Linked DNA regions of Homo sapiens. The protein of the gene in region 1 purifies or fractionates together with the protein of each later gene. This does not show direct contact. Each region holds a gene or a part of one and is shown on either strand. Other genes may lie near its edges. The genes, in order: FCHO1, ERCC6L and USP48.

The links.
Region 2: the proteins of FCHO1 (region 1) and ERCC6L purify together in Homo sapiens (affinity purification with mass spectrometry; one large-scale study listed by BioGRID and IntAct). This does not show direct contact.
Region 3: the proteins of FCHO1 (region 1) and USP48 purify together in Homo sapiens (affinity purification with mass spectrometry; one large-scale study listed by BioGRID and IntAct). This does not show direct contact.

What each region holds. Positions count from the first base shown.
Region 1 is NC_000019.10:17,785,698-17,789,140, reverse strand, and holds the end of FCHO1 (F-BAR domain only protein 1), read right to left. Parts: intron 2,568-3,443; coding exon 2,512-2,567; intron 1,460-2,511; coding exon 1,295-1,459; intron 872-1,294; coding exon of another isoform or gene 858-871; coding exon 835-857; coding exon of another isoform or gene 731-834; 3' UTR 580-730; downstream 1-579. UniProt on the Homo sapiens protein: Functions in an early step of clathrin-mediated endocytosis. Has both a membrane binding/bending activity and the ability to recruit proteins essential to the formation of functional clathrin-coated pits.
Region 2 is NC_000023.11:72,211,398-72,215,047, forward strand, and holds part of ERCC6L (DNA excision repair protein ERCC-6-like), read right to left. Parts: intron 1-3,650. UniProt on the Homo sapiens protein: DNA helicase that acts as a tension sensor that associates with catenated DNA which is stretched under tension until it is resolved during anaphase. Functions as ATP-dependent DNA translocase. Can promote Holliday junction branch migration (in vitro).
Region 3 is NC_000001.11:21,752,126-21,755,775, reverse strand, and holds part of USP48 (ubiquitin carboxyl-terminal hydrolase 48), read left to right. Parts: intron 1-2,656; coding exon 2,657-2,784; intron 2,785-3,124; coding exon 3,125-3,249; intron 3,250-3,650.

The DNA.
Region 1 (3,443 bases):
AGTGTGTGACCTCCCACAGATATCCAGTGAGGTGAGTTGCAGATGAGCTGAGGCTCAAGTCCCGTGCTTAAAGTCACACAGCCAGTGGCCGCCAAGCAGGCTCCTCACTCAGGCTTCCTATCTCCACTTCCTGGGTTCCAAGAACTTTGTCCTGCTCATAGCTCTCTCTCTGCTACATGGTATACAGTAGATACTCAATTAATATTTGTAGGTTGACTAATTGCTTCCTCATTGAACTAACAACCTTCCATCACTTTGCTTGGGATGCCCATTCCTATCTTGCAAACTCCTACTCATACCTCAAAACCTCATTTATAATGCCCCCTCCTTAGAAAGTCTTCCTGACTGCTTGGGAAGACTCCTGACACCCCTTTCTGGGCTTCTGTAGTCCTCCTCCCTCCCTATAGCCCACCTCTGAGCCCATGGGGCTGGGGTATCTGTGTTGTTCTTTCTCTCCCAGAATGGCCCTGTACCGGTTGAGCGCAGTGCAGGGAGGGAGGTACATTAGGTCTCTCGTATCCATCCACCTTCTCTTCCTCCCCTCTCTGGCAACGCAAAGGATACTTCCTGGAGCAGGAAAAGGTTTCCTTTTTTATTTTATTAGAAAATAAAGTGTTTATTCAAAGAACATTAAAAGGCCGGGACCTGTGTGGGGTTGGCATGAGGGGGAGGAGCGAATCTCGGGCTCAGCCAGGCTGGGCATGGGGCTCCTCTCCGTGGAGTATGGGCCTCAGGGAGGCTGGGGTGGGAGGCCCCAGGGTCCGGCAGGAGGGCAGGGGGTGGTCAGCCAGCACCAGGGCGCAGTGTAGAGCTGGGGCAGCAGCATTTGCGGGTTCAGCAGCTCACCAGGTACATCCCTGTGGGGGTGCAGCTGTGAGGGGGAGGGGTGGGGAGGAGGGGTACGGGAGGGGTTCCCCGGCTCTGACCCTGGGATGCTTCAATCATCCTTGTCCTCTTCAAAACACCCCTGTAACTCATAGTCCCTGTTGCCACTGGGCCCCAGGAGCCCCTTGTTGGGGGCAGGAGAACAGGGTGGGGCTGGAGGAGGGGGTGGCAGGGGGGACTTCGGGCTCCCTGGCTGGGGTCCTTCCAAGGACGTCCTCCAAGGGCCAGCCCCAGATACACAGGGCCCTGCCTCCTTGCCCACCTGTGCCCCCCATCTGGGGTCTCCTGGCCCCAACACCCACCTATCTTTCCCAAGGATCCCCACACCCCAATCCCTCCCCACACCCCGGGGCTTGCCCCTGTAAGATCTCGGCTCCTGAGGTCACCCAGCAGCAGGGTTGGGGAGTACCTGTGGCAAACCTCCTCTTCACCAGCGACATGCGGTAACCGCTGCCCACCAGTTCCAAGTCCACGCCCGACAGAGTGGTCCCCTCGCTGGTGAACTGTGCAGCCACGGGGCTGGGTGTGCTGGGCCCTGAGAGCGGCTCCCAGCTGGCAGAGAGGCGGCCAGAACCTGGGGAGACCTGCAGTCAGCTGCGCCCTGGCACCAGCCCCCGTCCCAGCTGTGAACCAGGCTCATCTTTGGCCCACACCTGAAGCCCTCTGTTCTGTGGCCTTTATGTGCCCCATCAGACCTCCCTTTGATCCCCTGCATCTGTCTCTCCTGGCATCACTGGGCTTTGTATGGCTAGCAAGGGAGTCCTGCCTCAGGGCCTTTGCACCTGCTGTGTCTGGCCATCTGGCCCTGGGACGCCCTCTCCTTCAGCTTTTTTTTTTTTTTTTTAGAGACAGGGTCTGGCTCTGTTGCCCAGGCTGGAGTATAGTGGTGCAATCATAGGTCACTGCAGCCTCTAACTCCTGGGCTCAAGTGATCCTCCCACCTGGGCCTCCCAAAGCACTGGGATTACAGACCTATGCCACTGTCCTTGGCCCTCCTCCAGCTTTTTTTTTTTTTTTTTTTTTTTTTTTTTTGAGACAGAGTCTCGCTCTGTCACCCTGGCTGGAGTGCAGTGGCACGATCTCGGCTCACTACAACCTTCACCTACTGGGTTCAAGCGATTCTCCTGCCTCAGCCTCCCAAGTAGCTGGGATCACAGGTGCGTGCCACCACACGCGGCTAATTTTTATATTTTTAGTAGAGACAGGGTTTCACCATGCTGGCCAGGTTGGTCTTGAACTCCTGACCTCAAGTGATCTACCCACCTCGGCCTCCCAAAGTGCTGGGATTACAGGCGTGAGCCACCACACCTGGCCTTTTTTGTTTGTTTGTTTGTTTTTGAGTCAGAGTCTGGCTCTATTGCCCAGGCTAGAGTGCAGTGGTACGATCACGGGTCACTGCAGCCTCCAACTGCTGGACTCAAGTGATCCTGCATTCTGGGCCTCCCAAAGCACTGGGATTACAGACCTATGCCACTCAGCCCGGCCCTCCTCCAGCTTTTAAAGACTTCCTCAATGCCCATACTTGCCCGCCCTCAGTATGTCCCCAATTCTTCCCCAACATAAATAAGTGCCTCCCACCTGACCCCAGTCCCTCCCACCCAGCCCTCATACACAACCACAGCTCACCGCCTGCCTCGGACACATCTGGAAGCCTCCAAGTGAGCCGCTTCTCCTCCAGGTTCCTGGCAGAGAAAGAATCTTAATCAGGGCTTCCCCAGAGAGGATGCTGAGAGCCCAGGGTCCTGCCTCAGCTGCCTCCTGGCTGTGTGACCCCAACAAACCTTCTCCCCCACTTCACCTCAATTTCCTCATCTGTGAAATGAGGGTGAGATATGGAACAGCCGTGGAGCCACACAGCCTTGCAACACTTCTGTGTGTGTGTGTGTGTGTGTGTTTGTTTTGTGTTTTTTTGTGTGTTTTTTTGAGATGGTGTCTCCCTCTGTCGCCCCGGCTGGTGTGCATTGGTGCGATCTCTGCTCACTGCAGCCTATGCCTCCTGGGTTCAAGCGATTCTCCTCCCTCAGCCTCCTGAGTAGCTGGGATTACAGGCGCCCGCCACCACGCCTGGCTAATTTTTGTAATTTAGTAGAGACGGGGTTTCACCATATTGGCCAGGCTGGTCTCAAACTGCTGACCTCAGGTGATCCACCTGCCTTGGCCTTCCAAAGTGTTGGGATTACAGGCATAAGCCACCATGCCCGGCTTCCTTGCAGCACTTTTAGATGACGCATTCTGTCCTATAAGTCTGGCTTCTTCACAACAGACTTTTTTTTTTTTAAATTTTTGTTTTTTAAGAGACAGTTGTCACCCAGGGTAACTCCTTGAAGCCTCAACTCCTGGGCTCAAGTGATCCTTCTGTCTCAGCCTCCCGAGTAGCTGGGACTACAAGAGCACACTACCACTACTATTTTTTTTTTTTTTTGAGACGGAGTCTCACTCTGTTGCCCAGGCTGGAGTGCAGTGGCATGATCTCAGCTCACTGCAACCTCCACCTCCCGGGTTCACGCCATTCTCCCACCTCAGCCTCCCAAGTAGCTGGGACTACAGGCACCCGCCAC
Region 2 (3,650 bases), on another chromosome or scaffold:
ATTCCATAGGAATGGACAATAAAAACAAAAATTTTATGTTTAAATGGTTTTACCTGAAATTATATGACTAGAGCATGTTTCTCTTTAAGGATTATTTTAAAGGACATCTAATCACCTCCCACAAGGTGTCTCCCCAAACACGTGAGGATTACAGTCTGGATTACAATTCAAGATGAGATTGAGGATTACAATCTGGATTACAATTCAAGATGAGATTATGGGTGGGGTCACAGCCAAACCATATCAGTGGCACACACCTGTAGTCAGTCCCAGCTATTCAGGAGGCTGAGGCAAGAAGTTCGCTTCAGCATGGGAGGTCTAGGCTGCAGTGAGCCATGATCGCACCACTGCACTACAGCCTGGGTGACAGAGCAAGACCCGTTTCAAAAATAAAAAAAAAAAGAAATATTATATACAAACAACTCCTGGAGGAAGGTGATACAACAATTAAACTTGGGCTACAAAGTCCTGTTACCTGGAAAGCTACACTTTCGCTGGCAAAACTGCCCAGTTGCTAACCCCCTGGGTCATAACCCCACCTAAAGGTCTCTCTATAAGAAGCCCTGCCCAAGTGGCCATATAAAATCATCTCTGTGGCTGGGCATGGTGGCTCATGCCTGTAATCCCAGCACTTTGGGAGGCTGAGGCGGTTGAATCACCTGAAGTCAGGAGTTCAGGACCAGCCTGGCCAACATGGTGAAACCCCGTCTCTACTAAAAATACAAAAAAATTAGCCGGGCATGGTGGTGGGTGCCTGTAATCCCAGCTACTCGGGAGGCTGAGGCATGAGAATCACGTGAAAGGCGGGGGTTGCAGTGAGCCAAGATCGCACCACTACACTCCAACCGTGCACCACAGCGAGACCCCATCTCAAAAAAAATAATAATAATAATAATAAAATCATCTCTGCCCCAAAGCTATTTCCTCAGATGCAAACATTTTCCTTGACCATAGCCAATTAACCTCTCAACATCTAATCCACCTCCCTTTGGAACTGGCTGATACCTTGAGAAACCTTTCTTCTCCACAGAGGGTCTGCCAGTTCAGATGCTGAAAAGTTTTTCTATCTGGAGAAACCCATAAGCCATACTATTAGACCTATGCCCCAAAGAGCTAAGCTAAGTTAAACACACAGTGTTTACAAATGAGCAGCTGAAAAGGCACACAAGCTTAAGTTGCAGAAGACACACACTTGATTTTCCTTGCTATGGAGGGCCCTTTAGAACATTCCCTACAAAGTTATTTTAGAATGTGAAGAGACAGCTGGGAGCGGTGGCTTGAGCCTCTAATCCCAGTACTTTGGGAGGCCAAGGCGGGCAGATTGCTTGAGCCCAGGAGTTTGAGACTAGCCTGGGCAACATAGTGAAGCCCTGGTCTCTACAAAAAATAGAAAAAAAATTAGCCGGGTTTGGTGGCATGCGCCTAGACCCAGCTACTGGGAGGCTAAGGTGGGAGGGATGGCTTGAGCCTGGGAGGCAGGGGTTGCATTGAGCTATGATCGTGTCACCACTGCACTCCAGCCTGGGCTACAGAGCCAGACCCTGTCTCAAAAAAAAAAGAATGTGAAGAGACAGAGAACTGAATGCAAAGACCCTAACTCAATAAAACTTTGTTTTCTTCACATGCAAAACAATCAGAAATGCTCTTTGTTTTGTAATCTGGCCACCAGCCACTAGGCCCATATAGGGGTGGAGGAGCCTAGACCTGCTAATCTCGGCGCATGTGAGTGGGGTTATTGCTGTCCTCTCAACAAGAACCCAGTTTTGAGAGACAGGACTTGCTGGATTTCCTAGGCTGACTAAGAATTCCTAAGCCTAGCTGGGGAAGGTGACTACACCTACCTTTAAATACAGGGCTTATAACTCAGCTCACACCCAACCAATCAGGTAGTAAAGAGGGCTCACTGAAATACAAATTAGGCTAAAAGCAGGAGGTAAAGAAATAGTCAAATCATATATCGCCCGAGAGCACAGGGGGAGGGAAAATGATCGGGATATAAATCCAGGCATTCGAGCCGGGAGGGGCAACCTCGTCTGGGTCCCTCCCATTGTATGGGAGCTCTGTTTTCACTCTATTAAATCTTGCAACTGCACACTCTTCTGGTCTGTGTTTGTTACGGCTCGAGCTGAGCTTTCGCTCACCGTCCACCACTGCTGTTTGCCACCGTTGCAGACCCATCGCTGACTTCCACCCCTCCAGATATGGCAGGGTGTCCGCTGCGTTTCTGATATAGCAAGGCGCCCATTGCCGCTCCCAATCGGGCTAAAGGCTCGCCATTGTTCCTGCATGGCTAAGTGCCCGGGTTCGTCCTAATCCAGCTGAACACTAGTTGCTGGGTTCCACGGTTCTCTTCCATGACCCACGGCTTCTAATAGAGCTATAACACTCACCATGTGGCCCAAGGTTCCATTCCTTGGAATCCGTGAGGCCAAGAACCCCAGGTCAGAGAACAAAAGGCTTGCTGCCATCTTGGGAGCGGCCCACCACTATCTTGGGAGCTCTGAGAACAAAGACCTGTCCGTTAACAGTTTCCCTATACTGATCCAGCTCCTGGAGTATCTGCTCCCTGACATGTCTCTATGTCCAGTCCCCTTGTCAAGATGCATGTAGATGCATTAGACACAACAGATGTCTTTTGATTCTCCATCAAAATCAATAAAACATAAAACATTTGGATAACATAAAAATTGCAGGTGACCTGAATGCCAGTATTGAAAACAGGTCCATTTAAAGCCCAAGTCATGGCAGAGTAGGCTAGGAGGATTCCTTCCTTTTGGCTTCACTTTCAGGGATGGTCATTTTAATTAAGGTGGGGATCATTTTAAAATCACATATAAACACAAACAATATTATTAAATAGTGATTTCTGACATAAATTAGGGAAAAATGTGGTTCACATTTCAGTCAAACAATATTTAATAATTAGCTTTTCCCTGCTTAGCGCCATTTATAAGACAGGCATTTAAGAGTCAAAAAAACAAACAATGTTGCTTTACTCTTAATAGCCAAAAACTGGAAACAACCCCAGCACTTTGGGAGGCCGAGGCGGTTGGATCACCTGAAGTCAGGAGTTTGAGACCAGCCTGGCCAACATGGTGAAACCCATCTCTACTAAAAATACAAAAATTAGCCAGGCATGGTGGCAGGCACCTGTAATCCCATCTACTCTGGAGGCAAAGGCAGGAGAATCATGTGAACCAGGGAGGCGGAAGTTGCAGTGAGCCGAGATCATGCCACAGCACTCCAGCCTGGATGACAGAGTGAGACTCCATCTCAAAAAAAAAAAAAAAAACAAAACAAAAGTTTAGGCCAGGCACGGTGGCTCACACCTGTAATCCTAGCACTTTGGGAGGCCGAGGTGGGCAGATCACTTGAGGTCAGGAGTTCGAGATTAGCCCTGCCATCATGGTGGAACACCATCTCTACTAAAAATACAAAAATTAGCCAGGTGTGGTGACGGGTTCCTGTAATCCTAGCTACTTAGGAGGCTGAGGCAGGAAAATCGCTTGAACTCAGGAGATGGAGGTTGCAGTGAGCCAAGATCAAGCCACTGCACTCCAGCCTGGATGAAAAAGCAAGACTCTGACTCAAAACAAACAAACAAACAAAAAAACCCACCAATCTGTGATATATTCATACAAAGGACTCAA
Region 3 (3,650 bases), on another chromosome or scaffold:
ACAGGCATGAACCATGGTGCCAGGCCTTGAATAGCTTTTACCAGCCTGCAAAACCTTTGCACCCCAAGGAGTAATATTTTATCTTTATTTTACAGATGGTATATTGACTTGCTGAAAGCCACAATTGGTAGTAAGGATACAAATATTCAGAGTCTGATTAGAAGACAGAAGCTACACAATAATTTGAACAGAAAAGGTTTTTTTTTATTGTTTGTTTGTTTTTTGAGACAAGATCTCACTTTTTCGCCCAGGCTGGTGCGAGCACAGCTCACTGTAGCCTCAACCTCCCAGGCTCAAGCAATCCTCCTGCCAGAGCCCCCCCGAGTAGTTGGAACTACAGGCATGCACCACCACCTCTTGCTAATTTTTGTGTTTTTTTTGGAGACAGCATTTTACCATGTTGCCCAGGCTGGTCTCAAACTCCTGGGTTCAATCGATCCACCTTCCTTGGTCTCCCAGAGTGCTGGGATTACAGGCATGAGCCACAGCACCTGGCCTTGAATAGCTTTTACTGGCCTGCAATGCTTTTGCAGGCCAAGGAGTAATATTTTATCTTTATTTTGAAGATGATATATTGACTTGCTGAAAGCCACAGTTGGTAGTAAGGAGATAAATATAGTCCAGTTAGAAGACAGAAGCTACAGAATAATTTGAAAAGGGAAAGTTGAGAATTAATAACAGAATTAATTAGAGAAATGAGGAATTGATTAATAAGAGTTAAAGATTAAAGAGGATTTTAAAGAATACAAGGACAGCAGATACAGGGAACAACCTGTATCCCTGGGGCTGAAAGAGAACATCCAACGGATAGTCTGTCACCCCCATGGCCCAGGCTTGAGATCCAGACCTCTTTGGACACTGCTGGGATGCACTGGGTGGCTGAAAAGGTGCTGAGATGCCTCCCTGGGAATCCCTACTAGAAACTGTCCATGAGAAGGTGCTGGGCCCTGGAACCCCCTACAGAGTCACCTGAGAGAGTGTCCGGGAGGCCATTCACAGGGTGGTCATTCGAGAGGAAATGCCTCACTGGAGGCACTGTACTGTGAAGCTATCAGAAGAGGTGCTGGGTAAGCTGCTGACTACTGTTAGGGGCAGGAACCTGGAGCCCTGGAGGAAGCTGATCTGCAGCAGGCTGGTGACAGAGGCACAACCAAACCCTGCAGTGCCCTTCACTGAGAAGCCTTACCTTCTTGATAACTGGCAAAGGAGAAGTATTTGCAGAGCCCATCTCTCATCACTGAGCAGGCAAAGAAGGGTAGATTTGGAGCTGAGAAGCAATAAGTTAATAACTTAAAGAAGATAAGACTTCTGTCTTCTGGGCTCTCAATATCCATGCTTTCTGCTTCCATTCCCTGCACTAGCTCATTAAAACTTTCAACTCTAAAATTCTACGGTTTTGTATTCTTCACTTAAGTGTGAATTGCTGTGCTTGAGATCCCAAGTCCACATTAACTGGACTTTAAAAAATCATGACTAGACACTGTAGTCATGATTGCTGTTGTTGCTTTAATACAGGTAGGCTCTTGCCTTTGGGGAGTGTATATGGACAGTCCTGGCTGCCTCATGACTTCCACAAAACATGGTTGCTAATTCTATTTCTTTTTTTTTTTCCTCCCAGATGGAGTCTCACTCTGTTGCCCAGGCTGGAGTGCAGTGGCACAATCTTGGCTAACTACAACCTCCGCCTGTCGGGTTCAAGTGATTCTCCTGCCTCAGCCTCCCGAGTAGCTGGGATTACAGGCGTGTACTACCATGCCCCACTAATTTTTGTATTTTTAATAGAGACGGGGTTTCGCCATGTTGGCCAGGCTGGTCTGGAACTCCCGACCTTGTGATCCGCCAGCCATGGCCTCCCAAAGTGCTGGGATTACAGGCGTGAACCACTGCTTCCAGCCTTGAGCCACTGCGCCAGCCCTGTCTTTTAAAGTTTTTTTTTTTTTTTTTTTTTTTTTAAAGAGTCTCGCTCTGTCATCCAGGCTGGAGTGCAGTGGCATGATCTCTGCTCACCACAACCTCCACCTCCTGGGTTCAAGCTATCCTTGAACCCCAGCCTCCCAAGTAGCAGGGATTACAGGTGCTCGCCACCACACCCAGCTACTTTTTGTATTTTTAGTAGAGACAGGGTTTTACCATGTTGGCCAGGCTGGTCTTGAACTCCTGACCTCAGATTATTCGCCCGCCTCTGCCTCCCAAAGTGCGGGGATTACGAGTGTGAGCCACCGTGCCCAGCCTTGTTTTTTGTTTTTGAGAGTCTCACTTTGTTGGCGATCTCACCTCACTGCAGCCTCTTCCTCCCGCGCTCAATAGATGCTCGTGTCTCAGCCTCCCAAGTAGCTGGGATTACATGTGTGCACCACCACACCCGGCTAATATTTGTATTTTTTTTAGTGGAGACGGGGTTTCTCCATATTGGCCAGGCTTGTCTCAAGCTTCTGATCTCAAGTGATCTGCCTGCTTTGGCCTCCCAAAGTGCTGGGGTTACAGGCATGAGCCACCGTGCTCAGCCTATTTCTTTTAAAGTTTTAAAATGATAATAAAGTATTAATCTAGTTTGGATGTAGAGATGTTTATGTTCTCATGTGAAGAGGAAGTACCATTTTTTGGAAAGAAAAGTAGCACCTTAAAAAACCCCAAATCTATATTTTTGTTTTAATAGATTATGAGCCTCAAACAATTTGTGAGCATCTCCAGTACTTGTTTGCCTTGTTGCAAAACAGTAATAGGCGATACATTGATCCATCAGGATTTGTTAAAGCCTTGGGCCTGGACACTGGACAACAGCAGGTAAGAACTGAATTTTTTTTTTTTTTTAAATATTCAGAGGTACCCAAACATCCTAAGCATGTTTATAAAGGGAGATGAAGTAGAATGCTTTTTAAAAATTAAATTTTTTCTATTTTGAATGAAAACCTTTATTTACTGTCCAATAGTTTACACATTATACTTGATTCCATTTATGGAAATTCATATGGGGGCACAAACTGATTGAACATAGCTGTAGCCCCTGTTTGAAAATGCTAAGTTGAAAGTATAGGTAGTTTCTGGAATGTTGAATGTATTACTATTTGTAGTAGAAGTTGAAAAGCAAGATATGATTTTTCTTTTCATTAACCTAAACTTGTAGGATGCTCAAGAATTTTCAAAGCTCTTTATGTCTCTATTGGAAGATACTTTGTCTAAACAAAAGAATCCAGATGTGCGCAATATTGTTCAACAGCAGTTCTGTGGAGAATATGCCTATGTAACTGTGTAAGTCTGTTTCAACTTTTTCATGGTACATTTTATTCTAAGACAGTTGCTCATATGTTAACTATTTTTCAGTGCAGTTCCAGGTTGTAGCTTTAGTGGTTTATCATGGGACCTGAAATATTTATAGTAATACATTTCCATGGGAACATATAAACAAGTGAGTTGGTAATTGCAGTTGCACCCATCCAGGTGTTAGGAACGGTGTCTGGGTGAGCTCTTGCAGTCTGCTCTTGCTTTATGGCTGTGTGGTGTGAGCTAAAGAGTAAGATTGGAACTGGCTAGAATACTAAAAGTAAATGTAAAATGCCTGTTAAAAAAATGTGCATGAGTACAATATACAACATTTGGGTGATGGTTACATTAAAACCTAGACTTCACCACAGTGCGATATATTCATGTAA